Regions from separate parts of the Homo sapiens genome. Here region 2 is linked to region 1. The links come from fine-mapping of genetic effects on gene expression. A gene starts in region 1. The other region holds a variant in brackets. All regions are shown on one strand. Distances are between the middles of the regions. Region 1 holds the start of MPDU1 (mannose-P-dolichol utilization defect 1). Region 2 holds the start of FXR2 (FMR1 autosomal homolog 2).

Region 1 (8,581 bases):
CCAGCCAGGGCTCAATCTCTGGGGGCTGAGGAGCAGCAGGAGGGGGGAGGGAAGGGAGCCAAGGGATGGACATCTTGTCATTTTTTTTCTTTGAATAAATGTCACTTTTTGAGGCAAAAGAAGGAACCGTGAACATTTTAGACACCCTTTTCTTTGGGGTAGGCTCTTGCCCCAGGCGCCGGCTCTTCTCCCAAAAAAAAAAAAAAAACACTAATCCATTTCCCTAACCTAGTAACCTCCAGATCCCAGAGGCTCTCCTCACCTCAGCTGAGCTCCTTTGAAAGTGATTCAAGGGACTATGTCACTCAGCCTCATTTGCTGGACCAAATCTGGAGGGAGAACCCCTAAAACCCCTAAGTGAGGTTGCCCAGGGGGTTGTCCCCAGGTGGGGGGAAGCAGGGGAGAGAAAATGGTAGCCATTTTTACATTGTTTTGTATAGTATTTATTGATTCAGGAAACAAACACAAAATTCTGAATAAAATGACTTGGAAACTGCCTGTTTGGGCTTCTCATTTCTTACCTCCCCTTCCCTCTCCCACCTGCTACTGGGTGCATCTCTGCTCCCCCCTTCCCCAGCAGATGGTTACCTTTGGGCTGTTGCTTTCTTGTCACCATCTGAGTTCTCAGACGCTGGAAAGCCATGTTCTCGGCTCTGTGAATGACAATGCTGACTGGAGTGCTGCCCCTCTGTAAAGGGCTGGGTGTGGATGGTCACAAGCCCCTCACATGCCTCAGCCAAGAGGAAGTAGTACAGGGGTCAGCCCAGAGGTCCAGGGGAAAGGAGTGGAAACCGATTTCCCCACCAAGGGAGGGGCCTGTACCTCAGCTGTTCCCATAGCTACTTGCCACAACTGCCAAGCAAGTTTCGCTGAGTTTGACACATGGATCCCTGTGGATCAACTGCCCTAGGACTCCGTTTGCACCCATGTGACACTGTTGACTTTGCCCTGATGAAGCAGGGCCAACAGTCCCCTAACTTAATTACAAAAACTAATGACTAAGAGAGAGGTGGCTAGAGCTGAGGCCCCTGAGTCAGGCTGTGGGTGGGATCATCTCCAGTACAGGAAGTGAGACTTTCATTTCCTCCTTTCCAAGAGAGGGCTGAGGGAGCAGGGTTGAGCAACTGGTGCAGACAGCCTAGCTGGACTTTGGGTGAGGCGGTTCAGCCATGAGGCTGGCTGTGCTTTTCTCGGGGGCCCTGCTGGGGCTACTGGCAGGTAAGGAGGAAGGAGGCTGAGGGGAGGGGGCCCCTGGGAGGGAGCCTGCCCTGGGTTGCTAACCATCTCCTCTCTGCCAAAAGCCCAGGGGACAGGGAATGACTGTCCTCACAAAAAATCAGCTACTTTGCTGCCATCCTTCACGGTGACACCCACGGTTACAGAGAGCACTGGAACAACCAGCCACAGGACTACCAAGAGCCACAAAACCACCACTCACAGGACAACCACCACAGGCACCACCAGCCACGGACCCACGACTGCCACTCACAACCCCACCACCACCAGCCATGGAAACGTCACAGTTCATCCAACAAGCAATAGCACTGCCACCAGCCAGGGACCCTCAACTGCCACTCACAGTCCTGCCACCACTAGTCATGGAAATGCCACGGTTCATCCAACAAGCAACAGCACTGCCACCAGCCCAGGATTCACCAGTTCTGCCCACCCAGAACCACCTCCACCCTCTCCGAGTCCTAGCCCAACCTCCAAGGAGACCATTGGAGACTACACGTGGACCAATGGTTCCCAGCCCTGTGTCCACCTCCAAGCCCAGATTCAGATTCGAGTCATGTACACAACCCAGGGTGGAGGAGAGGTAAAGCTAAAACTGGGGGATGAGAGGGGAGGGAGGCAGGACTGGATATAGGCTCAGAGGGAAGAAGGAAGAGGGGACAGGGAACCTTGGCCGGCATCGCATGCAGTCTTGTGACCTTCCAGTCTTTAACTTCCGCAGGCCTGGGGCATCTCTGTACTGAACCCCAACAAAACCAAGGTCCAGGGAAGCTGTGAGGGTGCCCATCCCCACCTGCTTCTCTCATTCCCCTATGGACACCTCAGCTTTGGATTCATGCAGGTATAGCCATGACCTCAGTCTCACCCCTCACTCAGCCTCCCGGCGCCCCTCCCCTCCCAATCCCACACGCTACTCCTTCCTCTGTGGAGAGGGATACCACCTGCGCCTTCCTCTTCGCCCCACAGGACCTCCAGCAGAAGGTTGTCTACCTGAGCTACATGGCGGTGGAGTACAATGTGTCCTTCCCCCACGCAGCACGTAAGTAACCTCCTTCCCTTTCTCATTGCTACCACTAGACGCCAGGGTTCCTGAAAGGACTAAGCTGGGGCCAGGGAGGTGGATAGGATCTGACCCTTCCTCACTCCTCCAGAGTGGACATTCTCGGCTCAGAATGCATCCCTTCGAGATCTCCAAGCACCCCTGGGGCAGAGCTTCAGTTGCAGCAACTCGAGCATCATTCTTTCACCAGCTGTCCACCTCGACCTGCTCTCCCTGAGGCTCCAGGCTGCTCAGCTGCCCCACACAGGGGTCTTTGGGCAAAGTAAGACCTACCTACTCCTTCCCTCCTAGAATCCTCCCACTGCACTGAAAACCCCTTCCCCAGGCCCATAAGCCACTCATCTCTCTTCTTAACCCCCCAAATCTCGCTCTCCCAGCTTGTCATGGCTACAGGGCAGCTTTCTTTCCATCCTCTACAAGACTCTGCCAGTTTCCCCCTTTTATCACTGCTGAGTCACTGCGGTGAGCTCCTCACCAATCTCCTACTCCCCAGCATCCCCCCATTCCCTCCTCCCACCTTTATCCCAACCAGCACGTCACTGCAAATACCTACCTGCCCTATCCTTCCGCCAGGTTTCTCCTGCCCCAGTGACCGGTCCATCTTGCTGCCTCTCATCATCGGCCTGATCCTTCTTGGCCTCCTCGCCCTGGTGCTTATTGCTTTCTGCATCATCCGGAGACGCCCATCCGCCTACCAGGCCCTCTGAGCATTTGCTTCAAACCCCAGGGCACTGAGGGGGTTGGGGTGTGGTGGGGGGGTACCCTTATTTCCTCGACACGCAACTGGCTCAAAGACAATGTTATTTTCCTTCCCTTTCTTGAAGAACAAAAAGAAAGCCGGGCATGACGGCTCATGCCTGTAATCCCAGCACTTTGGGAGGCTGAGGCAGGTGGATCACTGGAGGTCAGGAGTTTGAGACCAGCCTGGCCAACATGGTGAAACCCTGTCTCTACTAAAAATACAATTAGCCAGGTGTGGCGGCGTAATCCCAGCTGGCCTGTAATCCCAGCTACTTGGGAGGCTGAGGCAGAACTGCTTGAACCCAGGAGGTGGAGGTTGCAGTGAGCCGTCATCGCGCCACTAAGCCAAGATCGCGCCACTGCACTCCAGCCTGGGCGACAGAGCCAGACTGTCTCAAATAAATAAATATGAGATAATGCAGTCGGGAGAAGGGAGGGAGAGAATTTTATTAAATGTGACGAACTGCCCCCCCCCCCCCCCCAGCAGGAGAGCAGCAAAATTTATGCAAATCTTTGACGGGGTTTTCCTTGTCCTGCCAGGATTAAAAGCCATGAGTTTCTTGTCACATGCCTTTCTATGCCTTCCATGGCTGGGTCTCAGGGAGCCGGAAGCAGCTGCTGAGGAGGGATGAAAATGTCAGTGTGTGACGATGCCTCATGGGTTCACCCCCCAAAGCCTGGCACAGCTGGTGTTGGGTCTGCCGTGCCTCCCTTCCTTCCTCCTCTTGGGGCCACTGGCTGCTCCAGTTCCCCATCCGTGGCAAGCCGGTAGAGCCATTCATCCCCGCAGCCTTCTTCCTGACCCTCGTACAGTTTCAAATGCAGCAGACAGCCAAAGCAATGAGTGGGGGGCTGTGGAACTTCATTCCCAAAGGCAGCGCCAGTGGCTCCTGAGCAATGAGAATGTCCTGTCCTGTCCACCATATTCAAGGCCAGCAGAAGAGCCCGATTAAACCCTCGCAGCACCTGGCATGCTCCTATCCCACCTACAAGGGGTTGAATCAAGAAGGAGCAGTGGGTACTCTGACCTCCACTGGGGGCTCCTGGGAACAGCATGCCCCCCACACGGGGCCACCTGCCAAGCCTAACTTCATGCCCCCAGTACTTGAGATGAGGAGTGTCACTCTCAGGACAGCCAAGGTCCAGATTCCAGAAAGGACCTCCCAGATGGCCACAGCCTGCACCAGCAGTGAGCGCCAGTCCCACCCATTACAGCTGGCTACGGCGCAATCCCTGGGAGCCAGGATGAGCAGCACCCCCCAGCCGTAGGAGCCCCAGGAGGCTTCCGGCCTCCAAGGCCCAGAGACTGCCCCACAAGGGCAGCCCTCACCTGGCAGGGCCCCAGCAGCCCCACCTCTGCCTGCAGACATCCGTGTGACCTTGTAGACTTTGGAGGGGGGCCGCCAAAGGGCTGATCCACAGCGGAATGACGCACGGGTGGGCACCGTGGGTTGGCGTCCCGGCGGTCGGTAACGAAGCACAACGCCCCCACCAGGTAGTCCAAGGTGCCCTTTCCCAAGCAGCGCTGCAGGGTCCACTCGGCCTCGCCGAAGTCTCTGCCCAGCACGTGGTGCGCCCTCGGGCCAGCGGGGAGGGGGCGAATCCCGGGACTGCCTCGCCAGGCCTCGGCTCCCCGGAGACTCTTGGGGGTCTGGGCCCCAAGGGTGATTCAGGTGCTGCCCTTCCCCGACCTGGGCTCGCCTCCCCCACCTCCTCCTCTGCTTCACTGTCCCGGGCCCAGCAGTTGCCGGCGCACTCATGCTCCGAGGCCTGAGCCAACCGGAGGCGAGACAAGCACAGGGCCCTGCGCGCAACCCGGCACCTAAGGAGGCCTGCCCGGTGCAGACTCTCCTGCTCCCACCGGCGCCCTTCCCTCTAGAGACGCTGAGAGAACGGGAGCTAGTAGCGCCCCCACCCAACGCCACCTCGGAGACTCCGGCTCCTTCTCTCTCAACTTCGAACAATACAAAGTGTGCTAGGAGAAGACAAGATGGCGCCCAGCAGGAGGAGCGGAGAAAGGCAGGGGTGTAAATCTGGCTTCCAAACTGGAAGCGTCAACAAAGGCGTGGGAGGTCTAACCGCGCAGGCGTGCAGCTTCGGCAAGCTTTACAATTCCAACAGCGCGTCCAAAACGTGGTCCCTGACTGAGACTTATTTTACGCCACTAGAGTGAGGGTGGGTAGCGTCAGAAAGAGCGGGGCACGGGGCGGGCCAGCTTCGCCGCGGGAAAAGAACGGGAGGCGGAGTGTCCGCAGCGCGCACGCGCAACGAAAGTCAATGGCGGTCTGGAGAGACTGGCGGAAGCTAGCTTTGCAATATGGCGGCCGAGGCGGACGGACCGCTTAAACGGCTGCTCGTGCCGATTCTTTTACCTGAGAAATGCTACGACCAACTTTTCGTTCAGTGGGACTTGCTTCACGGTGAGTTTTATTCAGCATCCGATCCAAGTCCTACTCGAGTGACCGTGGGCCCTTAGTCCAAGCCTTGATCGGCGACTAAGTGACGGCAGTGACTGCCGCCATGCCGAGCTGGACGGAAGTCACTTCTGAGAAGGGCGGAAGTGTCTCGGGCTCCTTAGAGGGAGGACACCATATTAGTGCCAGTGGGGAAGTCACCGGGTGGAATTACTTCTTTGTGGAGTTTGTGCTGTAGCGACAATGAAAAACGAAGAGTCAACTTTTATAAAACAAAATAAAAATTAAGTCAAATCATGCCAACCTTTATTAGATCGCTAGCAGGGTTAAACTTAATTCAAAGCCCCTGATGAATCGGGCCTTCATTGCACCCCCAAAGGCTCCGCCACCCTGATTGCTTTCTTTCCAGCCTCCAGGTTTGCTCATAGTCTGATTTCGGAATAATTTGCCTCCCTTCCTTTTTCTGATTGCGAGACAGCTCCACAAGGGTCACCGTCAGACCGTTTGGGGAGCGTCAGTCTGCCCCTGTCAGTTCATGGTACCTCTCTTGAGCTCGTGGGGCACTTTGTTTTAGCCGCATTCATGACCCGTGAGAGTCAGACTCCCACTAGACCAAGTTCCTTGAGGGGAAGGCTTCAAGGCTAGAGAAGTTGTGGATGGCCAGGGCATAAAAGCAAGCCTTGAAAGGGTAAGGTTTAGTCCCTGAGTAGGGGCCAGGGACAGTCAGAGTGTTCAAGAAAGAGTGGTATGGGGCGGGCACGGTGGCTCACGCCTGTAATCCCAGCACTTTGGGAGGCCGAAGCGGGTGGATCACCTGAGGTCAGGCGTTCGAGACCAGCCTGGCCAATAGGGCGAAACCCCGCCTCTACTAAAAATACAAAAAATTAGCCGGGCGTTGTGGCAGGCGCCTGTAATCCCAGCTACTCGGGAGGCTGAGGCAGGAGAATCGCTTAAACCCGGGAGACAGAGGTTACAGTGAGCCAAGATCGTGCCATTGCACTCCAGCCTGGGCAACAAGAGTGAAACTCCGTCTCAAAATTAAAATAAGAAAAAAAAAATGGTATGAAGACTTGTCTTTGGAGAGAGAAGACATGTGAAATGGGGCACCCATTGGCCCAGAGAAGGGAAATAAAGGATCAGAGAGCTCTTGGGCATTTCTCAGCTTTATATGGGGAAGCAATGGAGAGCCGTGGAGGTCAAGCCAAGTTTGGGTGTTAATTTATAGGGAATGGAAGATTGGATGTGGGGGGTGGTAGGCATCGGAGAAAAGCTGTTTTGGAAAGTAACAGTCTGGGGCCCGGTGCGGTAGCTCGAGCTTATAATCCCAGCACTTTAAGGAGGCTGAGGCAGGTGGATCATCTGAGGTCAGGAGTTCGAGACCAGCCTGGCCAACATGGTGAAACCCTGTCTCTACTAAAAACACAAAAATTAACCGGGCATGGTGGTGTGTGCCTGTAATTCTAGCTACTTGGGAGGCTGAGACAAGAGAATTGCTTGAACCCAAGAGGCAGAGGCTGCAGTGGGCTGAGATTGGGCCACTGCACTCCAGCCTGGGTGACAGAGCAAGACTCTGTCTCCAAAAAAAAAAAAAAGTGTGGTGGTTTGGAGCAGGAAGGACCAGGACTTTCTCACTGCCCTCCGCCTCTCCTCCCCCCAAGACAATGCAAGACCCTGGTGTGGGTAAGGGGGCTCGGGGAGAGCCCACAGGAGCTTCAAGCCCTGGCCTGGGTTTCAGACATCTCCTGTCTGCTTACCCTTTTTTCTCTCCTCAGTCCCCTGCCTCAAGATTCTCCTCAGCAAAGGCCTGGGGCTGGGCATTGTGGCTGGCTCACTTCTAGGTATGTCTCTTATCTTTCTTTCCAGCTGTTGGGTTGGGGTGGAGGTGCTGAGAGGCCATCAACTGTGTGGGTGTTCGTTCTATAGCTGTTGTGTTGCATCCCAAAGAATGGAGAGTCCTCAGTCCTACTTTTCTCATCTTTCCCCTAGTAAAGCTGCCCCAGGTGTTTAAAATCCTGGGAGCCAAGAGTGCTGAAGGGTTGAGTCTCCAGTCTGTAATGCTGGAGCTAGTGGCATTGACTGGGACCATGGTCTACAGCATCACTAACAACTTCCCATTCAGGTGAGGGGCCCACCCTTCCACCCCAAGGGTAATACCCACAACTCTAATGGGGATTAAGGTGAAGGAGGTTACAAGGCAGCAAAGTGGCCGGGCCCAGTGGCTTGCACCTGTAACCCCAGCACTTTGGGAGGCCGAGGCGGGTGGATCACCTGAGGTCAGGAGTTCGAACTGGCCAACATGGTGAAACCCCGTCTCTACTAAAAATACAAAATTAGCTGGGTGTGGTGATGGGCACCTGTAATCCCAGCTACTTGGGAGGCTGAGGCAGGAGAATCACTTGAACCTGGGAGGCAGAGGTTGCAGTGAGCCAAGATTGCGCCACTGCACTCCAGCCTGGGCAACAAGAGCGAAACTCAGTCTTAAAAAAAAAAAAAAGGGACAAGGGGCTAGGAAAGTTTTAAGCCCTTTTAGAAACCTAATCATCACCAGTGGAGGTGATCTTGAGAAGGGGTGAGCATCCCGAGAATGGCCACGATTCAGAATGAGCCAGTCCCGTGTGGGGGCTGTAGAGAAGCGTGATCAGAGCATAGTGTCCCTGGATGGATGGGCTATGGAGGCTTTCCCTGCCTCTTTCTAGGCCCGCCTTTCTTCCTCCCAACTCTTGACTCTGCAGCTCTTGGGGTGAAGCCTTATTCCTGATGCTCCAGACGATCACCATCTGCTTCCTGGTCATGCACTACAGAGGACAGACTGTGAAAGGTGCTGGGGACTTACCCAAGAGCAGGCTGTGTGGTTCCTGGGAACCCTGCTGGGAACTCAGGTCTGGGAAAGCCAAATGATGTGGAGAGATTGACAAGGACTCCTGTCTCCCCACCCCTAGGTGTCGCTTTCCTCGCTTGCTACGGCCTGGTCCTGCTGGTGCTTCTCTCACCTCTGACGCCCTTGACTGTAGTCACCCTGCTCCAGGCCTCCAATGTGCCTGCTGTGGTGGTGGGGAGGGTGGGTACCAGGAGCAAGGGACAAGATGTTGTGGGGGCAGGGTGGGGGGGAAGAGTAGAAGATCAAAGTGTG
Region 2 (10,395 bases), 34 kb after region 1:
AGCCTGAATTTAGGGATTTGTGGTTTTTAACTCAGGAACAGGGCAGAAAATGCTAACCTGCCCAGATCCACATTACCACATTACCTGGCTTTCAGCTCAACCCCAAACTCTACTCTCTGAATCACAGTATCCTGGTCCCCATCTATTCAAGTCTATCACTGCCACAGCACACAGGAGAAAGGGAAAAGATTCAGAGAGACTTTCTGCTGGACACTTATATGTGGGACAGAAAACGTGTCCCTTCCCAGCCATCTCATACAGTTCATTTGAACTGGATACCAATCTTTCTCAGCTGTGCAGGGCTCCTACGCTTCCTAGAACAAAGCAAACATCATATCTTGATCTTGGACTCAACTTAAGAATCACTTTTCTTGGAACTCAGAATTTGGGGGTGGTAAGGACCCAGATGAAGGAAAAGATACCAAGGTAAACAGGGAGGGCCACTTTAGGAAGCTATTTCAACAAAGGTAATGCAAGTTTGGGGAAAAGGATATGAGAGACAAATGTGCTCTATCAAAAGCAGAAAGGAATTAGAGACTTTTGCCAAAGAAAACAGAAATGCTATGGAGGCAGGCTAGAAGAAAAAGTCCCAAGAGTTAGGCAAGTATGCACAAAATGACAAAAAGAGATCAGCAGGGAGCTTCCTTCAGCTAGACAGGGAATAAGGTGATTCCTGGGGATTACACAGGAATACAGAAATATTAGGAGAAAAAGCTAAAAACTTGAATTGAGAAGGTAAGTTAGACATGGGTACCCACAGTCACCGCAGAGAAATAAATCTGATGAGGGAAGTAAGGCAAAAATGGGTAAGTATGAAGAGTGAGTAAAAAATGACTACAATGGCCGGGCGCGGTGGCTCACGCCTGTAATCCCAGCACTTTGGGAGGCCGAAGCAGGTGGATCACTAGGTCAGGAGATCGAGACCATCCTGGCTAACACAGTGAAACCCCGTCTCTACTAAAAATACAAAAAAATAGCCGGGCATGGTGGTGGGCACCTGTAGTCCCAGCTACTCGGGAGGCTGAGGCAGGAGAATGGCGCGAACCAGGGAGGCGGAGCTTGCAGTGAGCCAAGATCGCACCACTGCACTCCAAGCCTGGGCAACAGGGCGAGACTCCATCTCAAAAAAAAAAAAAAAAAAAAAAAAAATGACTACAATGCACTTAGCAACTGAAGTACAGGCAGAAACCACCCAAGAGAAATTACAAGACCCTCTGCAGTTATAGAAAAATATGACTTAGAGAAGGAGTCAAAGAAAGACATTTCCAAGGGCATGAGAAACTAGAGAGGACTACAGTGGGGGAAAAAGGCCTGAGGGGAACTGAAGGAAAGGGGGAAGGGGGATCCACTCTTAACAAGTGATGCCATGGGAAGGTATCTCTTCCCCAGCTCCCCAGGGTGAAATCAAAGAATGAGACAGAAATCAGGAGAGTCTCTAGGACAATTCCAGGCATCAAATCCAAGAGGTTCAGAATACCAACAGTCACACAAAGAAAAACTCTTGGGAGGCAAGAAAGGGCTCTCTCTGGCTTAATCTAAATGGGAAAAAAATGTCCTAGAAAATAGATTCAGAGCAGATAAGGAAGGTGGTATTATAAGGAGTTCTAAGGAACCAAATCCTGGGCAAAGGGGGAGGTGAAATAAGGAAGGGTCTTTGAAAGATGATCCCGTCTTCCAAAAAAGGTTGTCAGATTCCCGAACTGGGATAGTTGGCCAAGAGTCTTCAAGAAGTGGAAATCTTAAGATAAACAGAAGGGAACCTCATAAGCTTCCTTTCAGAGATCCTTTTAGAGATTATGACTATGAAGCTTACATGCCTCAAGACGAAGAAACTATATGAATGACCTGAAGGTATCTGAGGTCTAAGTGAGACCTCAAATCCATTCCTGAGTAGAATGGTAGAGCAGTGGGTCTTGAGATCAAGGTGTGGTGGGGAGAGAGACTTGCGAAAGATGCCACCTTATGGCTGGCTGGGAAGCAACTTGACTGATCCAACCCAGGGTTCCTGAGGTCAAAGATGCCAAACGTCGTAAATGGATCTGACCATTTCTCCTTGGCTTGGGAACCGGAATATAAGATGAAAGTGGGGTGAGTGTTCCAGAGCCAGTAGGCAGAGGCCTCTCTGAGGAAGATGAAAGGATCTTTTACGGGACAGAGGGCCTTCCCAAAGGGACCGTGTGGAAGAAAGACAATTCTCCATGTGCTTGGATCGTGGGGAAGATGTGATTAAGGTCTAAGGTATGTCTTCCACCAGACAACGGACACAGTCAATTAGAAGCTGGGTAAAGGGGTCTCTCCTGCGGAGCGGGGAGCGCCAAGCCAGGGACAATAATGGCCTGAAGTTCATTCTCCCGGAGATGGGGGTAGAAGCAGGTGCAGGTGCCTTAGAGGGGTCAAAAATAAGAGGAACAGGGTTCACTCTAAGCGGTCTCCCAGGGAAGGCTGCGGGTTGGAGCAAGGGTCCAAGATTCTAAGGGCCAGGACTCAGCTCCAGAAGCTCGATCCCGCCCCACGCGTTCCTGCTCCGGCCAGGGGAGGGGGCTAAGGACCGGCGTCCCCAGTCGGCGCGCCGTCTCACCTTGTAGAAGGCCCCGTTGGAGCCGCGCACCTCGACGGGCAGTCCCGGCTCCACATCCCCCCCAGAGGCCAGGCCGCCCATGGCGCCGCCACCGCCTCCGACTCCCCCGGCGGCGGCTGCAGCAGCAGTCTGAGTGCGGGCCGGGCCAGGCCCCCGGCGTCTCCCCGGAGGAGGAGCCGGAGGGGGAGCCGCGGGGGGCGGGAGCCGGGCCGGCCCCACGGCGGCCCTGCCACAGCCAACGAGCAGGGGGCCGGGGCCGGGCCGCTCCCCGTCCGCCGCCGCCGCCTTGGTCTCCGCCACCGTGAGGGAAACGGCCGCCGCCGCCGCTGCCTTCGTCACCTCAGCTTCCGCCCGCCGCCGCCCCCGCTGCTGCCTCAGTCCCGGGACCCGCTGCTGCCGCTGCCGCTCCACAGCCTCCACCTCCCCCTGCCACCGCCGCCTACTGCGCAGGCGCACCGGGCACCCGCCCGCTGCGCGCGGGGCCCCGAGGGCCACCGCGCAGGCGTCAAGGTTAGAGCCCCAGCTAGCGCCAGCTAGCGCATCGGGGCTTCCACATTCCCTTTCACTCTCTCACTCCCCCTCCTGGTCGCTTGCTAGCGCTTGCGCAGAACAAGATTAGCCTTCTTTCTTCACCGCTCCACCGCCCAGCCACCCCGTCTCTTCCTTTCCCCGCCCCACAACACTGAGAACCAACCAATCAGGGGGAGGGAGGGGCCGGGCTCGCTCAGTCCGATTGGGCGGCGTCCGCACAGTCACACAGCGCTCAGGCCACACCCACTCCGCCGCCGCTGGCCCCACCGGGCTTGGACAAGTTAGGGATGGGCATGCGCCTGAACGACTGCTTGGTCACTTTCCCCACCTTTGTCTTTCTTGGTGCGCACGCTCCAAAAAGAAAAAAAAAAGAAGAGGAGTCGCCGCAAGGAAAAAGGTGCTTGGTGCGCACGCGCTGAGCTTTACCCTCTTCGCGTATGCATCGCCGATATTTTAAGAATCTGTAACTCTCTACTGTAGTAGATTTAACAGTCATGGCTCTTACCTTGAAGAGATTGTGATACAATGAAAGTTTTGGCCGGGCGCGGTGGCTCACGCCTGTAATCCCAGCGCTCTGGGAGGCCGAGGCAGGTGGATCACCTGAGGTCCTCGGATCACCTGAGGTCAGGGGTTCGAGACCAGCGTGGCCAAAATGGTGAAACCCACCCCCCCCCCCACCCCGCATCTAATAAAATACAAAAATTAGCCGGGCGTGGTGACACGCGCCTGTAATCCCAGATACTCGGGAGGCTGAGGCAGGAGACTACCTTGAACCTGGGAGGCAGAAGTTGCAGTGAGCCAAGATCGCACCATTGCACTCCAGCCTGGGCGACAGAGCAAGACTCAGTCTCAAAAAAAAAAAAAAAAGAAAGAAAGAATAGAAAGAAAGCTTTAAGAATAGTTTCAGACGGGCGCTGTGGCTCACTCCTGTAATCCCAGCACTTTAGGAGGCTCAGGCGGTGGATCACTTGAGCCCAAAAGTTTGACACCAGCCTCAACAGGGCGAAACCCTGTTTCTACTAAAAATACAAAAATTAGGACGGGCGCGGTGGCTCAGGCCTGTAATCCCAGCACTTTGGGAGGCCGAGATCACGGGCGGGC[G/A]GATCACGAGGTCAGGAGATGGAGACCATTCTGGCCAACATGGTGAAACCTCGTCTCTACTAAAATACAAAAAATTAGCCGTGGTAGTTCCAGCTACTCGGAAGGAGTCCCAGCTACTCAGGAGGCTGAGGCAGGAGAATCGCTTGAACCTAGGAAGGTGGAGGTTGCAGTGAGTGGATATCATGCCACCACACTCCAGCCTGGGCAATGAGTGAAATTTCTTCTTTAAAAATAATAATAATGGCAGGGCGCGGTGGCTCATGCCTATAATCCCAACACTTTGGGAGGCCGAGACGGGCGGATCACGAGGTCAGGAGATCGAGACCATCCTGGCTAACACGGTGAAACCCCATCTCAACTAAAAATACAAAAAAAAAAAAAAAAAAAAAAAATTAGCTGGGCGTGGTGGCGGGCGCCTGTAGTCCCAGCTACTCGGGAGGCTGAGGCAGGAGAATGGCGTGAACCCAGGAGGCGGAGGTTGCAGTGAGCGGAGATCGTGCCACTGCACTCCAGCTGGGGCGACAGAGCGAGACTCCATCTCAACAACAACAACAACAAATAATAATAATAGTGGCCCGGCGCGGTGGCTCACGCCTGTAATCCCAGCACTTTGGGAGGCCAAGATGGGTGGATCACAAGGTCAGGAGTTCAAGACCAGCCTGGCCAACATGGTGAAACCCCATCTCTACTAAAAATACAAAAATTAGCTGGGCATGGTGGTGCATGCCTGTAAACCCAGCTACTTGGGAGGCTGAGGCAAGAGAATTGCTTGAACCTGGGAGGCAGAGGTTGCAGTGAGCCCAGATTGTGCCATTGCACTCCAGCCTGGGCAAAAAGAGCGACACTCTGTCTCAAAAAATAGTAATAATAATAATAAATAATGCTGGGGAAATTCAAAATAGGAAAAACTGTCATGAAATAAGGGTAGTAGCAGGAAAACTTCACATTCTGGGAGTTGTCCTATGTTCCATCCACTTCTTGGATTAGAGTAAATGGTAATGCCAATCATGGAAGAGATAACATAGGAGATAAAGGTTTAGAAAATAAGGTGATGAATTTACTTTTATTTTTTTTTTGCCCTTTGAGCTTAGCCACCACATCTGGCTAATTTTTAAATTTTTGTATTTAATGGTGGAGACAAACAGACTTGGAAGTCTCTGACTTCATAGTGTGATGGCAGAAGAAAGACACTGGAAAAATTATTAATATTTATAATAATTATTAATATTGCAACCATGGCCAGGCACAGGGCTCATGCCTGTAATCCCAGCACTTTGGGAGGCTGAGGCGGGTGGATCACCTGAGGTCACCTGAGGTCAGGAGTTCAAGACCAGTCTGGTGAAATTCCATCTCTACTAAAAATACAAAAATTAGCTGGGCATGGTGGCACGCGCTTGTAGTCCCAGCTACTCGGGAGACTGAGGCAGGAGAATCGCTTGCACCCAGGAGGCAGAGGTTGCAGTGAGCCAAGATTGTGCCACTGCACTCCAGCCTGGGTGACAGAGCGAGACTCCATCTCAAAAAATTAAAATAAAAAACAAAAATAAATAAAGGCGATAGAAGAAAGGAAAATAAAGTATAAGAAAATTAAAGGATTAGTCCATGGGATACAACATCTGAATAACCAGAATTCCAGAAAGTGATAACAGAAATAATTATCTGGAAAGGATAAAATCATCTAAAATCAATAGTAATAATTATTCAACAAAATTTTCCAAGGCCAGGTGTGGTGGCTCATGCCTGTAATCCTGGCACTTTGCGAGGCTGAAGCAGGCAGATCACTTGAGCTCGGGCGTTCAGGAGCAGCCTGGGCAACATGGCGAAACCCTTTCTCTACCAAAACTACAAAAATTAGCTGGGTGCGGCGGCTCACGCCTGTAATCCCAGCACTTTGGGATGCCGAGGTGGGTGGATCATCTGAGGTCAGGAGTTTGAGACCAGCCTGGCCAACATGGTGAAACCCCATCTCTACTAAAAATATAAAAATTAGCCACACGTGGTAGCGTGTGCCTGTAATCCCAACTACTCAGGAAGCTGAGGGAGGAGAATCTCTTGAACTTGGGAGGCTGAAGTTGCAGTGAGCCGAGATCACACCACTGCACTACATACAGCCTGGGTGACAGAGAAAGATTCTGTCTCAAAAAAAAAAATTATTTCCAACCTCGTTTCCTATACCTAGCCACACTCTCAATATTTTTTTGTTGTTGAGATAGAGTCTTACTCTGCCACTCAGACTGGAGTGCAGTGGTATGATCTCGGCTCACTGCAACCTCTGCCTCCCAGGTTCCAGTGATTCTCTTGCCTCAGCCTCCTGAGTAGCTGTGATTATAGGTGCCCACTGCCACAGCTGGCTAGGTTTGTTTTTTTTGTTTTTGTTTTTGTTTTTGTTTTTTTTGTATTTTTAGTAAAGACGGGGTTTCACCACGTTGGCCAGGCTGGTCTCAAACTCCTCACCTCAGGTGGGTCACCCACCTCGGCTGCCCAAAGTGTTGGGATTATAGGCATGAGCCACTGCGCCCGGCCCACACTCTCAATTAAGTGCAGTAATAGAACAGACATTTTCAGGCTTTTAAGTTCCCAACAAATTTACCTCCCGGTACTCTTTCTCAAAAAGCTCCATCAAAATAAGAAGAGTAAACATAGAAAGAGGAAACACAGGTTCCAGGAAACAGGACGTCAACACAAGAGAGAGGCAAAGGGGATCCCCAGGATAAAGGTGAAGGGAGATCCCAATTGCGCAGCCTCAAGATCGCCTCTCTGGACTGGAGCAGGTCTAAGAGCTTTTTGAGAAAGTTCTTCAAAATGACGTAGATTGAAATCCCTAAGTGTTTGTATATCCTTATAAGAGATTAATTAAGGGAGAATTTGGGGATAAATTAGAGTACACAGGAAACTAAGCAAACAGAGAGGACAAGGCAGTTATTAATTCCAGGGAAAACAAAAATGGTACAGGAAAGAAAAAGAATTGTAACTATCCACATGGATCATACGTGTATTCGTATAATCATAATAATCATAATAATGAGGCCAGGCATGGTGGCTCACACCTGTAATCCCAGCATTTTGGGAGGCCGAGGTGGGCAGATCACCTGAGGTCAGGAGTTCAAGACCAGCCTGACCAACATGGAGAAACTCCATCTCTACTAAAAATACAAAATTAGCCAGGTGTGGTGGCACATGCCTGTAATCCCAGCTACTCGGGAGGCTGAAGCAGGAGAATTGCTTGAACCTAGCAGGCAGAGGTTGCAGTGAGCCAAGATCGCGCCATTGCACTCCAGCCTGGGCATTAAGGGTGAAACTCCATCTCAAAAAAAAAAAAAAATCATAATAATGTAAATGCTAAGGCTGGTGCGGTGGCTCATGCCTGTAATCCCAGCACTTTGGGAGGTCAAGATAGGCGGATCATGAGGTCAGGAGTTCGAGACCAGCCTGACCAACATGGTGAAACCCCATCTCTACTAAAAATACAAAAATTAGCCAGGCATGGTGGCATGCACCTGTAATCCCAGCTACCCAGGAGGCTGAGGCAGGACAATTGCTTGAACCCGGGAGGCAGAGGTTGCCTCTGCATGAGCCGAGATCATGCCATTGCACTCCAGCCTGGGCAACAAGAGCGGAACTTCGTCTCAAAAAAAAAAAAAAAAAGTAAACACTAAACACAGGAGGATGGGAAGTGGAGGTGGGATGATAAGCAGATTGGAAAAATAGTGCTTCTCTTTTTTTAACCTCAGTGATCCGTGTTCTGAAGGGCTAGCTTTTCATCCTCAACAGTGCAAAGCCAATAGCTAATGCCTAAACAAAAAACACTGGAGTGCAGTGGCTCAAACATGCCCCACTTCAGCCTCAACCTTAAGAAGTAAGGCCAAGAGCAGTGGCACATGCCTGTAATCCCAGCCCTTTGGGAGGCCAAGGCAAGAGGATCAGTTAAGGCCAGAAGTTCATGGTTACAGTGAGCTATGATCGTGCCACTGTACTCCAGTCTAGGCAACAGAAAAAGACCCTGTCTCTAAAAAAGTAAAGACTCCTTATCCCTCTCCAAAAAAAAAAAAAAATTGAAAAAATTGAAAAAGAAAAAGAGACATCAAGAAGTGGTAATACTGGCCAGGCGTGGTGGCTCACACCTGTAATCCTCCCTCCTTTGGGAGGCCAAAGTGGGAGGATTGCTTGAGCTCTGGAGTCCAATACTAGCCTGGACAACATAGTGAGACCTAGTCTCCAATAAAAAATTTGTTGTTTGTTTGTTTGTTTTTTGAGACAGAGTCTTACTCTGTTGCCTAGGCTAGAGTGCAGTGGCACGATGTTGGCTCACTGCAACCCCTGCCTCCCGGGTTCAAGAGATCCTCCTGCCTGAGCCTCCCAAGTAGCTTGGATTACAGCCGTTTGCCCCCACATCTGGCTAATTTTTGTATTTTTAGTAGAGACGGGTGGGGTTTCACCATGTTAGCCAGGCTGGTCTCGAACTCCTGACCTCAAGTGATCCACCCGCCTCAGCCTTCCAAAGTGCTGGGATTACAGGCGTGAGCTACAGTGCCCAGATTAATAATTTTTTTTTTTGTTTTTTTGGGGGACGGAGTTTTGCTCTTGTTACCCAGGCTGGAGTGCAATGGTGCAATCTCGGCTCTCTACAACCTCTGCCTCCCAGGTACAAGTGATTCTCCTGTCTCAGTTTCCCAAATAGCTTGGATTACAGACATGTGCCACCACACCCAGCTAATTTTTTTGTATTTAGTAGAGACAGGGTTTCACCATGGTAGTCAGGCTGGTCGCGAACTCCTGACCTCAGGTGAGCCACCTGCCTCGGCCTCCCAGAGTGCTAGAATTACGGGCATGTGCCACCGTGCCCAGACAAAAATTTTGCTTTCATTAGCCAGGCTTGATAGCACCTGACTGTGATCCCAGATACTTGAGAGGCTGAGGTGGGAGAATCACTTGAGCCCAGGAGGTCAAGGTTGCAGTGAGCCATGATCGCACCACTGCACTTGGCCTGGGCAACAGAGCAAGACCCTGTCACAAAAAAAAAAAAAAAAAAAAAAAAAAAAATCAAGATTTGCAATAGCCAGTTAGCTCAGTTGGTTAGAGCCAGGTGCTAACACCAAGGTTGTGGATTTGATCGCCACGTGGGCAAATGTATTATCATTTATGTGGATGGAGGATTGCTTGAGGCCAGGATTTCGAGACCAGCCTGGCCAACACGGAGAAACCCCATGTCTACTAAAAATACAAAAATTATGGGCTTGACACAGTGGCTCGCACCTGTAATCCCAGCACTTTGGGAGGCTGAGGCGGGCAGATCATCTGAGGTCAGGAGTTTGAGACCAGCCTGGCCAACATGGTGAAAACCCATCTCTACTAAAAAAAAATACAAAAATTAGCTGGGCGTGGTGGTGCACGCCTGTAATCCCAGCTACTCAAGAGGTTGAGGCAGGAGAATCACTTGAACCTGGGAGGCAGAGGTTGCAGTGAGCCAAGATCATGCCACTACACTCCAGCCTGGGGGCAACAGAGCGAGTCTCCGTCTAAAAAAAAAAAAAAAAAAAAAAACCAGCTGCATAAACTGGTCTCAAAATAAAGAAATAAATTAAATTTAAATAATAAAATAAAGTACATAATGTATATCTGTGAAAAAAAAAATCCCATGGAATTGGGGGAGAAATTACAGAAGGAGGCTGGGAGACCAGTAAGGAGGTTGTGGCAATTTTCAAAGAGTGAGAACTTTGCAAGTAAGGATAGAGCTATGGACAGATTTGAGAGACATTTTAATTTTTTTTTTTTAGATGGAGTTTTGCTCTGTTGCCCAGGCTGGAGTGCAGTGGCGCAATCTTGGCTCACTGCAACCTCCGCCTCCTGGGTTCAAGCGATTCTCCTGCCTCAGCCTCCCAAGTAGCTGGAATTACAGGCATGCGCCACCATGCCCGGCTAATTTTTTTTTTTTTTTGTATTTAGTAGAGACAGGGTTTCACCATGTTGGTCAGGCTGGTCTCAAACTCCTGACCTCAAATGATCTACCCGCCTCGGCCTCCCAAAGTGCTGGGATTACAGGTGTGAGCCACTACGCCCAGCCCAAGTTTTCTTTATTCTCCCTTTAAAAAGCCATTAGCCTAAATACCCTCCACTCTGTTTCCCTTAGAATGGACAGAACCCAGGCCCTTTTCACCCCACTCCAATCAGCCCCAACACCTAATAGG

What was found. PIP is the estimated chance that this variant, and not a neighbour inherited with it, causes the effect.
Region 2: its variant is fine-mapped to the expression of MPDU1 in whole blood (TOPMed, PIP above 0.99). The same link has a PIP of 0.9 or more in blood mononuclear cells.

Annotation. Positions count from the first base shown.
Region 1 is chr17:7,578,509-7,587,089 of GRCh38, forward strand. It overlaps MPDU1 (mannose-P-dolichol utilization defect 1), which reads left to right and starts at 5,344. Exons shown (of 7, transcript NM_004870.4): 1 at 5,344-5,457; 2 at 7,224-7,289; 3 at 7,438-7,570; 4 at 8,184-8,269; 5 at 8,391-8,509. The coding sequence starts at 5,355. CD68 (CD68 molecule) reads left to right here and starts at 1,130. Exons shown (of 6, transcript NM_001251.3): 1 at 1,130-1,218; 2 at 1,302-1,819; 3 at 1,958-2,077; 4 at 2,203-2,275; 5 at 2,388-2,558; 6 at 2,870-3,603. The coding sequence starts at 1,170. The coding sequence ends at 3,003. It overlaps MPDU1-AS1 (MPDU1 antisense RNA 1), which reads right to left and starts at 5,584. Exons shown (of 2, transcript NR_136402.2): 1 at 5,410-5,584; 2 at 3,466-3,655. It overlaps EIF4A1 (eukaryotic translation initiation factor 4A1), which reads left to right. Exons shown (of 11, transcript NM_001416.4): 11 at 1-498. It also overlaps SENP3-EIF4A1. RefSeq lists a silencer at 131-319 and enhancers at 1,795-1,854, 1,955-2,024, 4,168-5,041, 4,993-5,042, 5,042-5,916 and 2 more.
Region 2 is chr17:7,611,874-7,622,268 of GRCh38, forward strand. FXR2 (FMR1 autosomal homolog 2) reads right to left here and starts at 3,024. Exons shown (of 17, transcript NM_004860.4): 1 at 2,579-3,024. The coding sequence starts at 2,659. It also overlaps a transcript of SHBG not described here and the pseudogene TRUND-NNN6-1. RefSeq lists silencers at 2,579-3,108, 3,219-3,268, 7,845-8,045. The variant G/A (reference allele first, on the strand shown) is at 4,211.